Regions from separate parts of the Homo sapiens genome. Here regions 1, 2 and 4 are each linked to region 3. The links come from fine-mapping of genetic effects on gene expression. A gene starts in region 3. Each other region holds a variant in brackets. All regions are shown on one strand. Distances are between the middles of the regions. Region 1 has its middle 9.8 kb from the start of GSTT2B. Region 2 overlaps LOC124905090 (a long non-coding RNA gene). Region 3 holds the start of CABIN1 (calcineurin binding protein 1). Region 4 overlaps CABIN1 (calcineurin binding protein 1).

The links. PIP is the estimated chance that this variant, and not a neighbour inherited with it, causes the effect.
Region 1: its variant is fine-mapped to the expression of CABIN1 in thyroid (GTEx, PIP 0.97).
Region 2: its variant is fine-mapped to the expression of CABIN1 in fibroblasts (GTEx, PIP above 0.99).
Region 4: its variant is fine-mapped to the expression of CABIN1 in whole blood (TOPMed, PIP above 0.99).

What each region holds. Positions count from the first base shown.
Region 1 is chr22:23,950,005-23,952,686 of GRCh38, reverse strand. No RefSeq gene overlaps it. Among named protein-coding and RNA genes, the nearest start is that of GSTT2B, 9.8 kb to the left of the region's middle. RefSeq lists enhancers at 1-337, 338-1,029. The variant G/C (reference allele first, on the strand shown) is at 1,080.
Region 2 is chr22:24,213,664-24,216,345 of GRCh38, reverse strand. LOC124905090 (a long non-coding RNA gene) reads right to left here. Exons shown (of 2, transcript XR_007068023.1): 1 at 2,617-2,682; 2 at 1-1,120. Among named protein-coding and RNA genes, the nearest start is that of GGT5, 30 kb to the left of the region's middle. RefSeq lists an enhancer at 2,191-2,682. The variant C/T (reference allele first, on the strand shown) is at 1,460.
Region 3 is chr22:24,009,867-24,012,548 of GRCh38, reverse strand. CABIN1 (calcineurin binding protein 1) reads right to left here and starts at 1,245. Exons shown (of 37, transcript NM_012295.4): 1 at 1,182-1,245.
Region 4 is chr22:24,139,420-24,142,101 of GRCh38, reverse strand. The region is part of intron 29 of CABIN1 (calcineurin binding protein 1); the gene reads right to left. Among named protein-coding and RNA genes, the nearest start is that of SUSD2, 41 kb to the left of the region's middle. The variant C/T (reference allele first, on the strand shown) is at 1,299.

The DNA of each region.
Region 1 (2,682 bases), 60 kb after region 3:
ACTGCTCAAGCCCCAGGGCTTAAATGGGGTCTGGCCCTGGTGGATGTTTAGCAAATAGCCACTGAAGCTCGCTGAGTGGTCCCTCGACTCTCCAGGGAAACAGCACTTGCCCCACAGGATTTGTGGGCAAAATGGTAGCACTAAGATGCCTGGTACAGCCGCTCCTCGAAACTTAGCACTCTCCTTTTTTCGGAGGGGAAGGCTGGCGGTGAGGAGGCCCGGAAGCAGACTGGGCCCTGTGGCCTTGTGCAAGTCCCTCCCCTCCTCCAGCCTCAGTTTCCTCACTTGTACAATGCAGGAGGGGACTTCTATAACCCTTGTCAACACTGGGCACCTCTGCCTGCCTCCACCCATTCTTCACCCTGGGGCTGGTGCAGGGCCCACAGTCCATGATCCAAGCCATCAACAGTGAACAGACAGCCGACTGGCCCCACAAGGCCCGGCAGCAGCCCACGGACCGGTTACCTCTCAGCCAAGGTGAAGTCCCCATCCTTCAAGGCCCGGCACCTTCCTCAGGGGGTTCACCTGGGCAAAGGCATCGCTGTGCTGCTGGCCTGCAGGAAAGATCAGAGAGGTGAGTGGGGATAACCCAGAGTTCTCTGAGGTCTCTGCCCACCCCCACCCCAAAATCCCAGCAGCAGCTTTCTGAGGCCCCTATCTGGGAGGCATCAGGGAAGAGGAAGCCTCTCTGCTAGTCACTGGGTCACAGACCTTGACCCCATCAGAGGGCCATCTTTCCTGTGTCCAGCTCCTTGAAGCATGGCTCAAGGACAATTCCCTGGAGCTGTAATTCACACCCCACCCCCAGCCAGTTCCATCCATAGGTCAGACCCCTCCAGCCTCCTCCCTGGGCTCTAGGCTTGCCCCCTCTGATTCAGCTTCCTATCCCAGCTGGGGACTTAGGCCCTACTGGCCAGGCTGGGTGACCTGTCAATACCCCAGAGTCCCAGCCAAACATGTTCCCAACCCTCAGACCAACCTCATTCTTGCTGGGAATCCCTGCCCCATTCAGCTACTTAGCCTCCGGTGGCTCAGCTCTTCTTGCTTTCTTATGCCAAACTCTCAAGGCTCCCTCCCCA[G/C]TGGGGGTTCCCAGGTCTGACTCACTTTAGCACTCTAGGCCAGTGCTAGAGGCCGCATTAGGTGCCTGGTGTTTGGATCAGAGGACCTCAGTCAAGCCAGGCTCCAGTCTGATCATAGGCCTACATGTGGGCCTCTTTGCCCTTCTACTGAATGGACATACACACCCCTGCCCATTCTCCCTCCACAGACTGCTTCTGTGTCCAGCCCCTGTTCTGTAGCAGGTGACTCAAGCTGGTTGTACCAAGGGCAGCAGTTGGGAAGAGTCAGCTGAGCAGGGTCCTCCCTCTGGCCTGCCCAGGGGGCTCTGGCTCTGCTCTCTGCCCTACTGCTTAGTTATAGCCCTGCCTCCTCCACTGAATTGTGCTCCAGCTGCATCTCTGTATGCCAGCCAGACCAGCAAACGCTGGAGCTCAGGGTGAGGGTGCTGGCCTCCCCCACTGCCCTGCCACAGGGCCCTCCAGCCTCTAGCCTCTAGGAGTAGCCCCTTCAGCTGGGTGAGAAGCCCCATGGGATAGAGCAAGTCAGATGCAGGAAAAGGAAAAGGCAGAAGAATGCCAAGAAATACATAAAAGTGGAAGAGACCCAGGGCCAGACATGGTGGTGCATGTCTGTGATCTCAACACTTTAGAAGGAGGAGGCAGGAGGATCACTTGAGCTCAGGAGTTCAAGGTCAGCCTGGTCTACATGGCAAAATCATGCGTCTACACACACCAAAGAAAAAAGTAGCTGGGCACGGGGACGTGCCTGTAGTCCCAACTATTCTACTTAGGAGGAGTAAGTTGGGAGGATCACTTGATCCTGAGAGGTCAAGGCTGCAGTGAGCCGGGATCATGCCACTGCCCTCTAGCCTGGGCTGCAGATTGAGACACTGTAATAAATAAATAAATAAATAAATAAATAAATAAATAAATAAATAAACAAACAAATAATACAAAAGTGGAAGAGACACAGGCAGGGGTAGACAGGGACTATTTTACTTAGGAAACAACGAGGCAGTTTCATTGTTTTTTCCAAGCACATGGGGTGAAGATATTCTTGCCCCACTCCATTTCCCTACCCTCGTTCTGTGCCTGCTGTGCCCTCTCTAAACCTGTATTTTGAAGAATGTTTTGTATTCACAAGCAAAGATCAAGCCTCTATTAAAATAGACAACCAGTGGGGCATGGCGGCTCATGCTTGTAATCCCAACACTTTGGGAGGCCAAGGCAAGAGGATCACTTGAGCCCAGGAGTTCTAGGCCAGCCTCGGAAACACAGCAAGACCTCCTCTCAATAATAATAATAATAATAAATTGGCCAGGCATGTCGGTGGGCACCTGTAGTCCCAGCTACTTGAGGGGCTGAGGCGGGAGGATCGCTTAAGCCTGGAAGGTCGAGGCTGCAGTGAGCCATGATTGTGCCACTGCACTCCAGCCTGAGTGACAGAGTTAGATGCTGTCTCCAAAAAGTAAAAATAATAACATAGATAATTATGTAATAGTTTCCACACCGGAGAGTCTGATTCTTCGTGTTAGTCTGCATTCTTGGCCCAACTGCAAAGCAGCGGGGACAGGCAGGGATCCGCGGCCAATATCCCCTGGGCCTGCCTGCCCAGCCCAGCTTT
Region 2 (2,682 bases), 200 kb before region 3:
GGGCCCATGTCCTCATACATGGCACCTTCTAACTGACATAGTGGAAGAAGCTAGCTAGCTCTCTGGGGTCTCTTTTATTTAATTACTTTAGAGACAGGGTCTCACTCTGTCACCAAGGCTGGAGTACAATGGCGTGATCATAGCTCACTCCTGTACCCAAGAGATCTTCCTGCCTCAGCCTCCTCAGTAGCTGGGACTGTAGGTGCAGCCCACTATGCCTGGCTTCTGGGGTCTCTTTTATAGGGCACTAATCCCATTCATGAGGGCTCTACCCTCATGACCTAACCACATCCCAAAGGCCCCACCTGCTAACGCTATCACATTGGTGATTAGCTTTCAACACGTGAATTTTGGGGGCATAGTGGGTCCACCTGGATGGTCCAGGATAATCTCCCCATCTCAAAAAATTGAATCACATCTTCAAAGTCACTTTTGCCATATAAGGTCTAATCTTGGGTTCTAGGGATTGGGATGTGGATATATTTGGAGGTTGTATGTGGGAGAGGGGCTGGATGGGGCTAATTCCTAATCTGGGCTTGACTGCATGGCTAGAAGAGGTGGTCTGGCAGACTAGGAGGAAGGTCTGGGAGCAAAACATGGCTCACTTTGAGATGAGGGGGCCAAGCCGGCCCACCACTTGGGCAGACCTGCCATCATCACCGACTCTCGTGGGCCGCTGTCAGAATTCAGGCAGATGCGAGACCACCAGCTTCTCCTGCGATCTGGCTTTGGGAGGCAGTGGAAGACAGATCTTTGAAAGCAGCACGGCTGGGTCAGGGGTCCAGGGAGCAGAACTGGTGGGTTTAGAGAGAAGGGAGTCTCTGGAGTGCTTCAGTGTGGTGGGATCCAGAGGCCGAACTCACACCGTCAGGGCCCTCCGTGTGGTAGCCTCCTGCTAGATAGGCTCCCAGGCCATGATCTCAATGGCTTCAGCTGAACTTCACGCCCTGCAGGGTGACAGAGCTTCTCTCCTTGCAGTTTAAACAAAGTCCCAGATCCAGCTCTCAATGGGGCCCCTCTGAGCAGTCTTCATGGGCAGGGGAGGGCTGAGGAGAAGTGGTTGGCTCAGGTCTGTGGGGCCACCTTGAGAGCTGTTGGTAGCAGCCACCTGTCCCAAACCCTGTGGACCAAAAAGGAAAAGGGAACCAAAGGAGGAGAAGGCTGCTAGGCACAAACCTCAGGTGCCCCACGGTGGGAACCTGGCTCTGTGCTCCCAGACCACACCTGCGCCTGGGCCGGGGTGCTGGGAGGCTGCCTGGAGCTTGCTTGGGAAGGCCTGGCCAGTCTCTCCCATCAGTGCCTCCCAGTGGCACCCAAAGAGCATGATAACTTTGTCCCTGTGTGTCGGGGAGAGGAAAAGGGGCTCCTGTTCCCCCCAGCAGGGGTGCAACCCTGGCTCTGTGGTGCCTGATTCTGACTCACCTGCAGAGTGAGGGTGCACTCCCTGGACCCTTGGCCA[C/T]CCTGGGACTGCCACCCACCTGAGAAGGCTCATTCACTACTTGTGAACTGATGGATCTCCATGTCGGCTTTGGCCGAGCTGTTTGGAGTCTCAGACCCACATACCCGAGCAACCACCTCCAGAGCATCTGGACAAGGTGCACAGGCACCTTGGACTCAAAGTGCCAAATGGAAGTCGGCCCTGAGGCAGCTGGAAGCTCTGCGGTGCCTGCCTCGCCTCCCTCCTGCGCTACTCGTAGAACCCCCCTCTTCCCTCCAGCTGTGTGGTTCAGCCCTGACTCCACCTCCTTCTCTCTTTTCCATCTTTTTGCTGCTGGCACCACCACAGTCTACTCCCCACTCCTAATGCAATAAGCTTTGGAAAATGCACATCTGACCCTGCCTGGAGGTAGTGCAGAGACTTCCTTGGTTCCTGAGGCCCTGGAGGAAGCCCATTCCTCTCCCTCCCTGCTCATCCCACCCTGGGAGACTTGCCCAGGCCCTGCCCCTACATCCATTCTGCACCACCAGCAGTGCCAGCCAGTGTGCATTCCCAGCCCAGCCAGAGACTCTTACAGCTGGCTTTTGAAACATCTTGTTACACAGAGGAAATCAATACCAAAAGGGCGACATCTTCAACTAACACTGTAATCAATACAGATCTGACCCTTCAGGATACAGCTAATGCAGGGCTCGGAGGAAAATTCATTTGCTTAAATATTACATAAAAAATAAGAATCAAAATAAATAGGCCAGGTGCGGTGGCTCATGCCTGCAATCCCAGCACTTTGGGAGGCCAAGGCAGGTGGATTACTTGAGGTCAGAAGTTCAAGACCAGCCTGGCTAACATGGTGAAACCCCGTCTCTACTAAAAATACAAAAAAATTAGCCAGGTGTGGTGGCGGGCACCTGTGATCGCAGCTGATTGGGAGGCTGAGGGAGGATAATTGCTTGAACCTGGGAGGCAGAGGTTGCAGTGAGCTGAGATCGTGCCACTGCACTGCAGCCTGGGTGACAGAGCGAGACTCTGTCTCAAAAACAAACAGGCCAGGCGCTGTGGCTCATGCCTGTAACCCCAGCACTTTGGGAGGCCAAGGCAGGCGGATCACGAGGTCAGGAGTTCAAGACCAGCCTGGCCAGCATGGTGAAACCCCATCTCTACTAAAAAAAAAAAATTACCAGGCATGGTGGCGTGTGCCTGTAGTCCCAGGTACTCGGGAGGTTGAGGCAGGAGAATCGCTTGAA
Region 3 (2,682 bases):
GGATGTTTCCTGGCCTGGAAGGTGGGAAGCCTATGTCTTAAGCTCAGTGGTGGCAGTGCCCTGGCTGTGTGACTGACTTGACATAGATGTCAGTCTCTCAGTCTGTTTCCCCTCATGTATGAGGCTTTGTACTAGATGAGGGTTCTGCAAGCTAACCAGCCCACCCTTTTTGTACAGCCCACGAGCAAAGAATGGTTTTTACATTTTTTCATATTTGGGAAAAAAAATCATGACACGTGAAAATTATATTAACAATATATAAAATTAAAACTTCGGTCCCTATAATTAAAATTTTATTGCGACGCAGCTAGTCTGTTATGTATTGTCTTTGGCTGTATCCACACTACATCGCTACAGTTAAGTAGACAGAGTATGGACCCCCCAAGCCTAAACTACTATTATGAATACTATTATACTCATTATACTTACAATATAACAATGTAAACACTGATATATTTACAACAAAAGTTTGCCGACCGCTGAACGAGACTGTTCTAAGCATATTCTATTTCTAACCACAATAATCACATAGAAAGAATCTTAGCCACATGGAATCCGACGGTCCCACACTTATAACCTGTAATAACCCAGGTCCTGAAGAGTTAAGTGACTCCCAAAGCCACTTGTGCAGATACCTTGGGAATGCCAGGTGAGTTCCATCTGGCCAGGGCCCGCCTCTTGCGGGGAGGCAGTGAAGCAGAACGGTCAAAATTTTCAGTCTGGAGTCGCGCTCACCCACTGGGTGACTTGGAGCAAATCATTTCACCTACCCGCGGCCTCAGTTTCCACCCCTGTAAATGGCACCAATAACAACACTCACCTCGCAGGGCTGCTGTGAAGGTGAAGCGAAAGGTCGCGAGTAAAGGGTTAGCGCGCTGGGCTTTGCACCCAGCAGACGCCAAATCAATGGTGGCTCCTGCGGTTACTGGGAACCTCCCCGGAGGCCGGAACCCATTCTAGGCACCTCAGGGCGGCGGCGAGAGCCATGAAGAGGCTCGCGAGGCAGCCAGGAAGCCCGGCCTCGGTTTCCCTGACTGGGGCTCTAAAGCTGCCCGCGAAACCCCCAGCTTCCTCACGTAACCCAGCCTCGCGCCTGCAGCCCCTCCGGCCTGTGCCCCGGGCTCTGCTGAGCCTCACCCCCACCCCGGCACCGCCTTCAAACCAGCCTTCCAGGAACTCACCAGGCGTCTCCACAGCAACGGCCAGTCTGTCCCGACCACCGCGCCGTCCGGCTGCGCGCCTGACAACAAGGCGTGCTCCCATTGGCTCCGGTGCCGGTTGTGCCAGCCAATCAGCGGGGGCGCACGCGCCGCTCGCTCTCCGCGGGCTGCTTAGCTGGGGCCCTGCAGACGGCTACCCTTGGGCGGCGCGCGCGCGCGTGCGCGCGTGTGTGCGCGTGTGTGCGCGCGTGCGCGTGTGCGTGTGCGTGTGTGTGTGTGTGTGTGTGTGTGTGTGTGTGTGTGTGTGTGTGTTGCGGGAGTGGAGCTTGTTGTTTCCGGATCCCCGTCGTCAGTCCTAGCGTGCTGGAGGCTTAGAGCACCAGCTCGTAGTCGGACTCTCTTCTCCACAGCTTGCACCCTGAGCAGTCACTAAATGATGGGCTGTGTGTTATTACCTGGGACATGTGCTCTGAAAACAGTGGAAACTTGGGGAACACTTAGAGCGGGGTGTCCAATCTTTTGGTTTCCCTGGGCCACGTTGGAAGAATTGTTTTGGGCCACACATAAAATACACTAACACTAAGGATAGCTGATAAGTTAATAAATAAATAAATAATAAAAATAAAAATCACCAAAAAATCTCAAAATGTTGTAAGAAAGTTTATGAATTTGTGTTGAGCCGCATTCAAAGCCAAGCAGACCAGCGCGTTGGAGAAACTTGACTTAGAGGGAACCAGGGAGGAGGAGCATCCTCATTCATTATATTACCTGTGCCTCTCTTTCCAAAAAGGATGTGAAGCCCAAAAGGAACAGATACAATAGGATATTGAAACAAAAGGAAAAAAAGGAACAAAACCTAGTAAATGAACAAGAAGAGGGGTCATGGGTGGTGTCAGAATTCCAGAGATGAAAAAAGGCGACAGAGTTGAAGGGGTTCTGTCAAGGGTCTTGGGCTGAAAGATGGTACTCTCTTGGGAGCTAGAATAACAATAAAGCATTGTAGGGAAGAACTTTACACTGTGGTTGAATTCATAGCTGCTTGAGTCTTGCACAGATGATTCAAATAGGAGTGAATGTTGGGGGCTTTTTAACCTCAAAGACAGTAACAGCATGGTGAAAAACTCAGTTCAGTACAATAAAGCTATACTGATAAGCTAGAAGTTCTGAAAATTGTTGAGTCACCAACCTTGACTTTGAGTATTGGGGTAAACAGTATTTGGGGGGTAAACAGAAGCATAAACAGATGGTTTCAAAGCTGCATGGATAACCTTCAGCCTCGGATACAGCTTCCACTCAAGCCTTATCATGAAAGATGCGCTGGAGAGAAACAGTTGAAAATAGGTGGGAAGGGTGGTCCAAGCAGCAAGAAAGTTGTGTGGGGAAGGTCCGGAGGTGAGAAACATGCAGATCATGCTGGAGTGTCATGCAGCACAGTGTTACCGTGAGGCAAAGCTCAGGGCCACAGTGGGGAGAGAGCACTCTGGAGAGTTAGGAAGAGGCCAGTCCAAACAAGCAAGCAGAA
Region 4 (2,682 bases), 130 kb before region 3:
CCTCCAAGGTTACACAACCAACTGGTGGCGAATTAAAGTACAATGGGCATGACTGATTCTTGCTGAGAAGGACAGTACCCTGGGCTTTGGAGACTTTCTCTCCTTCCCCCCAACTCTGGCAGGTATGGGGTACCAGAAATTGGGTGGGGAGGCCCTTCCTCCCTACCAGACCACATCAAGGCCTTCAGTGAGCACTCAGGCTCCAGGGCTGGGACAGCACAGGGCATAAATGTTTTCAAGAAACAAAGACAGCTCATGATGACTGTACCTCCCATCAGTTTAAGCAACACAGTCAGGACAAACAGAACCACCTGTGGCAGCCGCCAAGTAGGAGAGAACATGGCAGACCCTGGGTAGACAAAGGGGACTGGCTACCGGTGTGGGAAGAGGCTCAGCCTCCCCACTCACATGGGAGACACACACTGAAACCACCTGGGGTTTTTTGGCACACTCCACAGATAGGCCAAAATGAAAGTCATCTGTGGTTCTGAGTCCTGGGAGGGGGTGGGGCAAGGGCTGGTGGGAGGGCATCTGGCCTGGCTCTGCCAAAACACCTGGCAAGGTGTGGAAGCGCTTGGCTGTGGGGACCTGTGTCCTGGCCTCCAACTTCCAGGCATTTGTCCTGGAGACCCCGGCACAGGTGAGAAAGGAGATCAGAGATAGCAGCATTCTTTTTCTAATAGTGGAAAACCAAAAGCCACCTATCCGCTAGGAAGAGGGGAGGTAGACCACCAGGACAACCAGACAGTGGAGTGCTATGCAGCAGTGACCAAGAACAGGAAGTTTGACCACCATCCACAGGCACCAAAGACTGGGCCAGGCCTCACAGAAAGAGACCTGTGTGGTGGGTGTGACGGCTAAGGCCACCATCCACATCTCAGGCTGCTCCATTCAAGCCAGGGCAGGGCCTTGAGCTTATGGAGGCCCCAGCCAGGTGTGAGTTGGAGCTCCTCCTGCTCCGTGCTTCAGTCACATCCTAGCACTGGCCTCTAGGATCCACAGATAAGCCCCAAGGCCTCCATGCAGGCCCATCTCCAGACCTAAGGGTGATTTGTGTGGCATGCCAAGTGTGTGATGATAGCTTTCATCCACCTGTCGGGACCACTCTGCTTACGGGTAGCCCAAGCTGAGTAAGGGGTAGAGTGGCTGGGAGCTGTGCCTGCCTGTGCCCAAAATCTGTGCTCTTCTCAGTGATCTTGGGACCTGGGGGCTGCCCACCTGAGCAGCGGCAGGAGCAGCTTTAGGGGAGACACCACACTCAGGGAGGCCACAGTAGGCCGGCACCTCCCTTCCACTCA[C/T]ACTCAGGCCACCATTGCTGCCTGCCCCACACGGCCTCAGAAGCAGGAGGCAGTACCAGCCTGGCCCTGAGCTCCCTTTGCTTCTTTCAGAGGCTGGAAACTGGGTTGAAACAAGAAAAAACCCTGCCTGCTAAAATAAGCAAACATTTTGGGGAAGGAAGGAGAACCATCTCTGTCTGGTTTGGTTACTATGGGAACGTTTCTGAATCAACTACAAGACAGGGAGAGAAGTTCACCCTGGACAAAGCAGCCTGGCTCTGGCCCATGCAGGCTTGCCTGCCAGAGGTGTGTATGCCTGCGGGGGGAGCCCCAGAAGCTTCTGGGCACCCAGACACAAACCCTCAGCCTCCATGGTGTGGGTAGCCACCCCAGCAGCACCTACCACCTAGCTTGGTGCCTGCTTTCCTGGTCCCCTCTGCTCAGGGAGGACGGTGTGTGGAACAGTGGGACCCAAGACATGCCATCTTCACTCCTCCTCATGTTCAACCACAGTGCTGAGCCCTGCTACACGTCCATCTGTGCTGCTGTGGGGGCCAGCCAGTCATGGGGCAGTTCCCATTTGCAAGGAGTTCCTGTCAGCAAAGCTGACATAGGAACCCAAGGTCCCACTCACTCGATCCTTAGCACCCATCCCATTCTCTGGTCCCTTAAACTCCCCAGGAAGGTTCTGTCAGCAGCCCAGCCTAAGGAGTTCCCCCGAGGGTGCCTCTAATCCTAGCCTTCCTCTCCTGCCCCCTTTCTGGCTGAGCAGCACCCCACCCTGCATGGGAGAGCCCAGCTCCCTGTCCCTCCTACATGCCCTGTAGCACGTTATGAAGGCCCCGCATGGAGACATGCAGGCAGTGCTCTACTGTCAGCCTTGAGCATCCTGTGGCCAGGGCCAAGGCTTTGCCTGACTCCTACAACATCCAGCACTGGCTGATCCAGGAGAATGAGCTTGGAGACCAACTGCTGAGGGGAAAGGGATGAATGAAATTAATCCACAAATATTCATGTGGGCATCTCCTCTGGGCCAGGCCAGGGGACTTAGGAACACAGCAACAGCACAAAGACGCACAAACCAGGAGACTGTGAGAGCAGACACTGGGCCCATACATGTGTCCACCCAAGGAGACTGGGCAGCAGCTGCAGAGAGCAAAATGACCTGACCTTCTCACATGGAAACTTCTCCAAGACTTGGTGTCATGGAAAAAGCAAAGTCGCTAAAAAGCACACACGCACACTTTTTTTTTTTTTTTGACACGGAGTCTTGCTCTGTCGCCCAGGCTGGAGCGCAGTGGTGCAATCTCAGCTCACTACAACCTCCGCCTCCTGAGTTGAAGGGATTCTTCTGCCTCAGCCTCCTGACTAGCTGGGACTACAGGCATGCACCACCACGCCCGGC